3 linked regions of the Homo sapiens genome follow. The protein of the gene in region 3 purifies or fractionates together with the protein of the main gene of each other region. This does not show direct contact. Each region holds a gene or a part of one and is shown on either strand. Other genes may lie near its edges.

Region 1 (3,729 bases), on a different chromosome or scaffold from region 3:
ATCAATTTAACAGAAAAAATCAGGATGATTTAATAACAGAGGAAAAATTCAAGGTTGGATTAAGGATAGGAATGACAAAGGAGACTTAAATTGTATTCAAGGATGAAAATAAGGGTCTACTTTGAAAGAGAAGTGGACAGATGAGCATTCAATAAAGGAAGAGAGGGCAACAGGGAAGAATTACAAATTTCTTCACAACTTGGTACTACTAATTTCTCAAATTACTTTTAACCAGGCCAGTCTAAAAGTTGCAAATACAGCCCAGTTTGCTGTGCTGAATCTTGACTGAAATGTTAGTATGTGTGTATAGACTTATGTGTATTATTGGTACTTCATTAGATACTCATTTAATTCTCAGTAGTGGTACAAACCAATCCTGATGGAACATCTCAAGTTAGATTTCAAGGTCCTAGTTTGACTCGGAATGGAAGGAAATATGTGACAGCTGCCATTTAGTCAGCACATGGAAAATGTTTTCATTTTCTGGCTGCAAAAACTTGTGTGTTTTTACACCTCCCCTTCCACCAGCACCTCAAATAACTGTGACACTAAAAAAGTAGATATAATACTAAGAATAACCACTTAACCCACTCAACAGTTTCTTACATCAGATTTTATTATACTGAAATACAAGCTACATTTTTACAAAATAGAAATTCTTTGTGAGTGGATTGACTTAATTTTATTTCTGTATAAGCTAAATATGTTGATCTGTTTTATGAACATGTATTTTATAAAAATGGTCACAATATATTTTTTAAGTTAACTGATTTATTGAGGGAGGAGGAGAGAGTTGACCAAAGTCTACATGCATAGACAGTCCTAAAAGCGTATCTCAAACATGAAGATGTAAATTTGAGAGTTAATGATACAAATTTCAGCAAAAACATTTTACAGGCAGAGAGTGTTTTGGTGTTTATAAAAGCTGAACTCCTTTTGAAGGGCTTTTGTACAAATACACATGCTCATATACTATATGCATATATAGGTGTACTTCATTTTGAGAAAGTCCAGTATAATACTAGCATCAAATTTACAAAACAGGTTTAGTGTTGACTGACTGAAGAACTCACTACAGGTTTTACTTCAACTGCTTACATTCAAAAGTATTCAATTTACAAATTTTAGGTACTTACTGTGTAAGGTAAGTACATCTATACATAAATACTTTTATGCAGGTATAATATAAACATAGCAAATAGCTGAGGCTATTTTCTAAGGTGTTTGGCTTAGTGAACCTTTTTTACATCTTTATAGTTTTAAAGTCAAATACATAGCAGTCTTTATTTGGGTGTATGTTATCACAGAGGAATAAAAATCAGTAATGGGACTGGGAACAGTATACCCACTAAGTTAAATTAAGTCATTGGTTAAAACACCAAATTATTCAAAACCATTTAAGAGATATGCCCCACTAAATTCCCTCTGAATTTAGTCATTTACAGATGTTGTGTTTCGTATTCCTGTTCTCACCTTTGTGCCTGCTCCTTTGCAAACATTCTTTTCACACCAAATTCTTAGAACTGAATCAGAACTGCAGAAAATCCAACACCTTTTCTCTCCTCTGCACATGGCTACAAAAATTCTAATAGTAACAAGATAGTGTGAAAGACATACCTCTATATACTTTTTACTAGCATTGCATTTGCAAACTTACTTGAAATTACTTTTTTAAAAAAACAGGATTTCTATGGCGTCCTGTCCTTCAGGGTTCCTTCTAAGGTATGAATTGCTAAGAATTTTCTTTTCAGCTGCCTATATTTCATCAGCCTTGATAATTAATCATCTTTTATACTAAATTTGCCATATACTGACAAAGTCAAAGACCTGTAATAAACTAGACAAGCAAAAACTTTCTCTTAGCGGGACTAATGCTGTTAAAGGCAAATGGTTTCCTTTCCATTAAAACCATATTCCTGCCTGTTAAGTTACTGAGGTAACTCCAAAAAATTAAGCAGTAAAAAAGATCTCCATGGGATGTGCCCTAACACAAATTCTACTCGGCCTACTCAACCAGCACCGTAATTTTTAACATTCACTTAGCACCTATGGGTAATTAAACAGGCATCATCGGAGAATATTCCAGTTGCTAAATGGTACCCCATTATTAATTAGTACTATGCCATGGCTCTCTCTGAGTATTTCTCTGCTCAGTTCTAGTAATATCTTAGCAGTGATAAAAGTGTTTTGCCCAAATAGTTATTCTCATTTTGTTTCACTTTGATTGAAACAAACATTTGATTTTCTTTCATCATGTGCTGTCATACGGTGATATGGATTCAATAACTTAATCATAATGACCCCCCAAGATTAAGAAGAAAAAAAGCATCATTCAGCATCTCTCCTCTACCTTTTAATTTCTGTGTTAAGAGGGAAACAAAACCTTCAAAGGAGCAAGCCAAGTAGCTTTTCCTCTTCTCTAAACTTTACTGGAAATAAGGCATTAGAGGTGATTAGTGCTAATCTCACTTCTGTTCTCTCCTTTACTCCTTGACATCACTGTGTTCTACATGCAGTCCTCCAGGTCACCTGCTTCAAAACCATCAGTTCATTCAAAACAAAGATTTACTGGACCCTCTCTCAAAGGTACTGATTCAAAATCTCAGGAGGAAAGTAATGAAGGTCTACATTTTTAAAAATAAGCTTCCCAAGTGAAGGTTACTCACCAATAAGCTTAAGAACCACTACCCTATATATCATACAAAATAGCTGCCCAATGTTATAATTTTAGTTGTCCGATATCAGAATGTCAGCAGAGGATTAGGGCAAATCAGCTAAGCATGGTGGCTCACGCCTGTAATCCCAGCACTTTGGGAAGCCAAGGCAAGAGGATTACTTGAGGCCAGGAGTTAAGAGAGCAGCCCGGGCAACACAGCAAGACCCTGTCTCTACAAAAAAAATTTAAAAATTAGCTTAGTGCACTAGTAGTGCAGTCCCAGCTACCTGAGAGGCTGAGGCAGGAGGATCACTTGACTCCAGGAGTTGGAGGTTACAGTGAGCTATTGTGTGCCTGGACAGCAGAGCAAAACCCTGTCTCTTAAAAAAAAAAAAAAAAAAAAGATTAGGATAAATAAGTTTTAAGAGAGAGTCTATCACCAACGATCTGAGTGAGTTACATTAAAAACCTGTATGAAGAAAAAAGTATATGAGATGACAGCACTCTGGAAAAAGTGCATCTGTAAAACCAAACGTTTGGACTACATAGTATTTAAGATCCATTCCAGCTCCAAAATCCTGACTTCGTTTTTGTCTCCTCATACTGACAGTGGATGAAATGCAAATACATGTTTGCATTCCAGGGAATAAGAGGTTCCAAAGCTACCTCTAGTCTTGTCAGATGGCCCATAAAAACATGCTCTGTTGATCTGATTTTAACAACTCTAAAATAAAATCCTATGCTACACATATTCCTAAGTCCCTGTTCACAACCGGTCATTCTCCAATCTTGCCTTGGTACTTATTCTGCTGTAACTGTACTTATATTCCAGAACAAGAAATAGCTTTGCTAAACAAAGATTAGACTAACATATGCTATTACCTATAGTTTAATGTGTTAAGGAATAAACGGCAGACATAAGTTGAGTATTCAGGCTGAGGGCTTCTTTCCACCACCACAAGCTAAGCTCCATGAAGGCAGGGAATTTTGTTTACCTAGTACCTAGCACCTAGCTCAGTGTCTGATGCGTATTTGGCAATCAATGAATATTTGCTAAGTGCATAAATGAATGA
Region 2 (3,655 bases), on a different chromosome or scaffold from region 3:
AGCAGTGAATGGGATGTCACTCATCATTGATGCCTCCTTGGGGCAGCTCACAAAAGTTATTTCCAATCCCCACAATTCTGCTAGGGAAGCATTACTTTCCCTTTCATACCAAGGAAGCTGAGCTAAGGGGATTCGGTCTTCCCAAAGTTACTCACTCAGCTTCTAGAACAAGCCCGTGAGTCACTACAGGTTTTCCCTCCTTTACCCAATAAATCACAACACAAACCAAAAGGCTTCTGGACACAGAGGCTTCCACTTTGGTCTTTGGGTTCTGGCTTCTGAGTGGACCCAGACACTAAAGCCGAGTTCTGGTTCCCTGGGGTAGTTCACTCCTAAGGGTGGAGGCCAGCTGGGGGGCAGGACCGACCTCAGGCCCACACCCCAATTCAGGGAGGACCCAGCACCGACAGTGTCTGGTAGACCAGAAGTACATCCTACAAGGACCACTGAAGTGGACGGAGCAGAGGAGGGAAGATGGGATTTCCACACACGCAGTAACTCCCCCAACAGGCGCTGAAGGTCATTGTGGAAAGAGCCTGAGCTCTGAGCCGGACAGCAAGGTTTAACTCCTGTTCCTGGAGGTCACCGGCTGTGTGAACCTGGCCAAGTCTCCTAACCTCTCTGAGCGTGGGGTGCTCTCACTGTTGATGAGTCCACTACCCACCTCACAGGCTGTTAAAGACCAACTAAGAGCCTACACATTAGGTAGCAAGTGATGGGCCTGGCACGCGGCAAGCACTCCAATGTTAGGTACTGTAATTACTCATTAAGCACTGGCTCCGGCAATCAGTGGGTGCTCAATACAAGCGAGCTGTGCCTGCCAAGCGATAGTAGCAGGAGCATAGCATGGCAGTCAAGACCACCAAGTATACTTGCTGTGCAACCTTGGGTACACTACTTGACCTCTCTGAGCCTCAGTTTCACCTAAAAAACAGAAATGACACACCTCACAGGATACCACGCAGACTGTATGTTAAGCTCAGACCCTGGCAGTTAGATGTTCTAGGATGGGAGACACCTGGGTGGAAAGGCGAACACGGACCCCCATACTGAACTCCCCACCCTAGTGACCAGGCCTCTGGTCTTTCACCTCCCAAAACCCGCTCTACACAGCAGGCCTGGCCGATGCAGCCAGGAGCCGGGGTGTCACACCAAGAAGCCCTCCTCAAAGGACACAACCACACAGCCAACACAGTAACCACAACACGGGCTCAATGGCTGCCCCACCCTGAGTAACCAGAACCCACTCACCACTCCAAGACCAGCACCAAGACTTGGCATTTCCTGGGCTCCTCTTCAGGGAGACCCAACCATGTGTGATGCCACAAATACCACGCTGTCCTGTGCTGTCACCTGCCAGTCAACCTTTAGGACTCAGTTCAGTGCCACCTCCTCTGGGCAGCCTTCCCACCCCGCCCTGTGCCATACATAGAGGTCAGATGCCACCACAAACTCCTGCTGCACACACCGGGAGCTCCCCAAGGATAGGGACTGCATGCTGACAACCCTGGTGTCCCCAGCCCTTGGGTCAGGGCTAGGCATTCAGCATCAAGTCAGTAACTGTTAGCAGGGCGATGGAATGAGCAAAAGGATGTGGGCCTGAGAGAGAAGCACTTCCTGCTGGGGGTGTTCTGTGCTCACTGTGAAGTGTTGTGACCAACATACCGACTCGATCAAGTCCAGGGCTTCAGAGAGGCTAGAACCCACAGCAGGGATGAGGAGGTTAGCTGCCTCCACCACCCACTTGTAAGGCAGGCTCGTTTCTGGTGGGGAGCCTTCCTGGTCCTCACGCTTCGGGAATTCCTCCAAGGGCTCTGGTGTTCGCACTGCGTCCAGATCTGTACCGATGGGCTCCTGTTCCTTCGATGTGGTGGCTGCTGCAAGTTCCTCCTCACTGTTTTCCTCCTCCTTTATGGTAGGAGGGACGGAGGGCCAGTTGGTCAGAAGACTTCCCTGTAAGACACAAGAATACACCATTTGCATTTCGCTGAGATATAGACTATATAGTAGTTTCCAGCTAAACCACACAACCTGAATCTAAGAAGGAAACTGTGATGAACCCAAATAGAGAAACATTCTACAGAATAATTAGCCATACCATATACTTCCAAAATGTCAACATCATGACACTAAGAAAGGCTGACTAAAGGGATAGGACAACTAAATGCAATGTCTGGTCTTAGACTGCATCATGGACAGGGAAAAATGGAATATAAACTGTAGATAAAGATCCTGAATTAGGCTTAAATTCCCTGGATTGAATATAACTTTATTGTGGTTATGTAAGCAAATGGCCTTATTCTTAGGAATCTATGCTACATAACTAACTCTCAAATGGCTCAGATGAAAGAAGTAATACACAGAGGTTGGGTGCAGAGGCTCACGCCTGTAATCCCAACACTTTGGGAGGTCGAGGCTGGTGGATCACCTGAGGTCAAGAGTTCGAGATCAGCCTGGCCAACATGGTGAAACCCTGTCTCTACTAAAAACAAAACAAAACAAAATTAGCCAGGTGTGGTGGCAGGCACCTGTAATCCTAGCTACTCGGGAGGCTGAGGCAGGAGAATTGCTTGAACCTGGGAGGCAGAGGTTGCAGTGAGCTGAGATCGCACCATTGCACTACAGCCTAGGTAACAAGAGCAAAACTCTGTCTCAAAAAAATTAAAAAATAAATTTTTAATGCTTAATAAACATTAAAAAATAAAAAGACCAGGTACAGTGGCTTATGCCTGTAACTCTAGCACTTTGGGAGGCTGAGGCAATTGGGTCCCTTGAGTTCCTGAATTCAAGGTTGCAATGGGCTATGATCACACCACTGCACTCCAGCCTGGGCAACACAACAAGACTCTAATAAAAAAAAAAGGGAGGGGGGAGGGGGCTGGGTGTGGCGGCTCACACCTGTAATCCCAGAACTCTGAAAAGCTCAGGCAAGAGGACCCCTTGAGTTCATGAGTTCAAGGTTGCAGTGAGCTATGATCACGCCACTGCACTACAGTCTGGGGTACAGAGCAAGACCCTGCTCATTTAAAAAAAAAAAAAAAAAAAAAATCACGCCTGTAATCCCAGCACATTGGGAGGCCGAGACGGGCGGATCACAAGGTCAGGAGGATCGAGACCATCCTGGCTAACACGGTGAAACCCCATCTCTACTAAAAATACAAAAAATTAGCCAGGTGTGGTGGCAGGCGCCTGTAGTTCCAGCTACTTGAGAGGCTGAGGCAGGAGAATGGTGTGAACCCGGAAGATGGAGCTTGCAGTGAGCCGAGACTGCGCCACTGCACTCCAGCCTGGGCTACAGAACGAGACTCTGTCTCAAAAAAAAAAAAAAAAAAAAAAAAAAAAAAAAAAAAAAAAAAAATATGCGGGGCGTGGTGGCTCACACCTGTAATCCCAACACTTTGGGAGGCCAAGGCAGACAGATCCCTTGAGCCCAGGAGTTCGAGACCAGCCTGGGCAAACCCCATCTCTATAAAACAAACGAACAAACAAAAAGTGAATTTTATTGTATGTAAATTATACCTTTATAAAATAAAGAAAAAAAGCTACCAAACTGGGAAAAAATAGTTACTACATGATAAAGGAGTAGCATCCTTAATATACAAATAAAATGTACAAACCAGTAACAAGATAAAAAAAAAAAAAAAAAAAGACAACC
Region 3 (3,655 bases):
CAGTCTATACAGAATGATCCCATAACTGTGTGCATCTTTAGACACTTTTCCCTGATTGCTTTTCAATAAATTCTTACATAATTGCTCCAAATTACTTTTTTCAATACTTTCATAATATTGCATCAAATATATGTTTTAAAAAGTCCACAAAATGAATTGCCTTTTTGTTTCAAAACTTAAAACACCATTTATCTGCCTCGAGACTATCCTAGGCAGACACTGTCTCTTCTTATAGATCCAAGAATTCTGCAAAAATACTTTTTTCCATAAGGGGTGAACATCCCAGTTTACTGCCTGTGTACTGCATTTAACTTGCTTATCCTGTCAAAACTGTGGGCATAAAAGTATGGGGCAAATAAGAAGTGTGTCAATTTACTGACTGAAATTCAGAAGCCATGTGCTGACCTAATGTTTCTAGTGGCACAGTTGTATCCAGCAGTAAAACCTGACCTAGTATGCATTATTTATTACCACATCATAGTATGTATACTAAGTCAAGCGTATAACTAATGTTGGGTTTTACCCCTGAGAAGGAGTATCTGCTTTATCATAAGCTACTGAATTATTTGGAAAGGTAAAATAATAATTATTTTGTCCAAATGATAAATCCAAGGTCAGAGTAACCATTTTGATACAAATGCTTTATGCCAACTGCCAGGTTTAATAAGAGCCAGAAAGAGCCATAGGTTCTGTAGGTTATACTTAGAAAATTCTAAGAAAATTCTCTACGACCAACCTGAAAGCAAAACATTTGGCAAAATCAGCACTTTTTACATAACTCATGAAATGTGTTTATTTTGTATTTTTAGATAAAATGTAATATATTTTATTTTCTTAAAGTAGTATACATACTACTGTACAAAGTACTATGTAGTTCCAAAATTGCACAACCTCCCCTATTACGTCAATCAGTAATCAAGTTATAAGGGCAGAACGATTGAGTTATTATGGAAACACGCACCAGGAGAGTGGACTTCCTGGGCCTTCTCCAGTAATTTTTCTGATGTTAACTCCAATAGAAAGAGTGTGACAACCTCAAAGAATACACATTAAAACTAAAAATATAAACCAATATATTTAAACATTTAAATACATCAAAATGGAATCATAAGGCAGACATTAAAAAAAAGAAAAAAACGTTTGACTTTTCAATAGCTCTTTTTCACATCTGTAAAATGTGGATAGTCATACCTGTACTGCTAACTTACACAGTTTTGTGGAAATAAACAAAGTTCATAACCAATCCCTTTATCAACCACAAAGCCTGTGAAAATAAAAAAATACTGGGCCTCTGATTTTTTTTTCAAACTAGATAGTGAGAAAACAGCTTGTAAATTAAATAACAAAACAAAAACCTAAGCAAGTATAAGCTGAGTATCATAAATACATGAGTTTTCTGTACTGTAGAAGAATACATATTAATGACATTTGTTTACTAATTCAAAGCACACTGTTACCTAAAATACCGATTTTTTTCCTGAAGACTCCAGAAGTCAAGCAAATGAAGAGGAAGATTGGGGAAAAGGAAGCAGTTGATTCACAACTGCATGTGCCAAAAAAGGAGTGGGAAGAAAAATGAGAGCCAATTTGGTCTATTATCTTTAATGGAGAGTGATGGCTAAACTCTGACACTGATAACTTTCAGCGTCAGGTGTCTGCTGAGTTTCTCTAAGCTCATTTGAATTCATTTAATAAGTGATTAGACTGGTAGGGTAGCTTTACAAATCTGCTTATGGTGAGCATTGAGTTGTTTATGCTTATTTCATTTTTTGTATAAGGAAAGGTAAACTGTATTTTCAAGGTGTGTTGTAAGATTTGCACTAAGAATCACAAAAAGAATCAAAAAACTTAGAATCACATAGCAAAAGTAGCAAATACATGTAATGCATCCTTTATTAACAGGCAGGTAATGGTATCAGAGGACCAGAATAACCTCTGCTCTATTTACTGTCTTCTTTGGAAAGAACTCCAGAACCAACCTTTTGGTTCCCCCAACTATTTATTGCCCTAATAGTCAAGGGGTAGAAGACAAAGAGTTGGCCAGAACTGAAATTCATTTTCTCTAAATTGGTTGTTCACAACCAATAATATTATTTTCCTCACAAAACTTTTCTTTTTAATAAGAAACAAAATCTTGCTCTATCACCCAGGCATGAGTGCGGTGTGTGGTCAAAGCTCACTGCAGCCTCAAACTCCTGTGTTCAAATGATCCCCCTGCCTCAGCCTCCCAAATTGCTGGATTACAGGTGCATGCCACCATATCCAGCTGATTTTTTCAAAATTTTTAATAAGATTTTAATTAATCTCACTATGTTGACCAGGCTGGTCTCAAACTCTTGGGCTCAAGCCTGCCAAAGTGTTGGGATTACAGGTGTAAGCCACTGCACCCAGCCTTACAAAACTTGAACAGTCATCACGCCACCCTTAGTCCTAACAATATCTTCTTTACATGATTCAGGCCAGGATGTCTCTGGTGCTGGGTTTTGGCCATCATCTCTGAACCCTCCAGGTTTCCCATCATTTGTAAACTATTAGTCTATGAGAATAAAAAATAATTTGCTCTCATTTTTCTATGTATTCTCACCCATTTTTAAGGGAAAGGTTTCAGGAAACACTAAAAATAACCCTCCAAAAATGAGAAAAACATTGTTTATAGAATTTCTACTTCCAGTTCAAAATTTCATCTATATTGTTAAGACTCTTAATATTCTTCAAAATTACTGAGGACCCCAAAAGTGCTATGATTATGTAAGTTATATCCGTTAATATCTATCATATTTGAAATTGAAAGAGAAAAATTTTTTAAATCACATTGAAAGAGACAATTCACAAACATAGACATATAAGTGGCCACTATGAAAATTGCTCAACTTTGTTCAACAAAGAAATGTAAATTTAAACAAGATACTATTTTCGTATATCAATTATCCAAGTTGTTGGATTTGTTGTCATTTGCTCTGTTTGATGATGGCACCCAGTATTGACATAGAAAACTCTACTCTTTTATATTGCTCATAAATGAATACCATATTCCTCAAGAGCAAAATGTCAAAAATAATCACTAGCATTCCATGAGATTTCGCTAAATATTTTAAAGAATCCTCAAAATACCCAACTATTATTATTTCTATTTTACAATTGAGAAGACAACATTTTAAGGAGATAAAGTAATTGGATTATCATCTCACAACTTGTAAGTAATAAAATTTTTTTTAGAACCTAGAAAATAAACTTTAAGAATCTACCATAAGGAAATAAACAAAAATGTATACTAACATATATAAAAAAGGTCCTAGATGAAATATTATTTATAATAGTGGAAAACTATTATAAATCTAAATATCCAACAATTATTTATAATAGTGGAAAACTAATCTATCTAAATATCCAACAAGATATAATTGGCCAGTACAGCCTATATACAGATGAAAAATTTCATATAGTAAGAACCATACTCTTTTGCTCATGGATAGATTGCCATTACTTGCATTACACACAGTAGGGACTTAATAATATTTGTTAAATATGTGAATACAAAGTAATGCATGATTATTAAAAAAAACATGTTTTAACAATGCATCTCATGAATGAGGGAGAAGCATGTTACAAAACAGCATGAACAGTGTGATCACAATTTTGTAAAACTACATGTATG

What was found.
Region 1: the proteins of PLA2G4A (region 3) and SUGT1 purify together in Homo sapiens (affinity purification with mass spectrometry; one large-scale study listed by BioGRID and IntAct). This does not show direct contact.
Region 2: the proteins of PLA2G4A (region 3) and MYBL2 purify together in Homo sapiens (affinity purification with western blotting; one study listed by BioGRID). This does not show direct contact.

Annotation. Positions count from the first base shown.
Region 1 is NC_000013.11:52,697,779-52,701,507, reverse strand, and holds the end of SUGT1 (protein SGT1 homolog), read right to left. Parts: 3' UTR 599-3,729; downstream 1-598. UniProt on the Homo sapiens protein: May play a role in ubiquitination and subsequent proteasomal degradation of target proteins.
Region 2 is NC_000020.11:43,698,055-43,701,709, reverse strand, and holds part of MYBL2 (myb-related protein B), read right to left. Parts: intron 1,954-3,655; coding exon 1,666-1,953; intron 1-1,665. UniProt on the Homo sapiens protein: Transcription factor involved in the regulation of cell survival, proliferation, and differentiation. Transactivates the expression of the CLU gene.
Region 3 is NC_000001.11:186,831,862-186,835,516, reverse strand, and holds part of PLA2G4A (cytosolic phospholipase A2), read right to left. Parts: intron 1-3,655. UniProt on the Homo sapiens protein: Has primarily calcium-dependent phospholipase and lysophospholipase activities, with a major role in membrane lipid remodeling and biosynthesis of lipid mediators of the inflammatory response.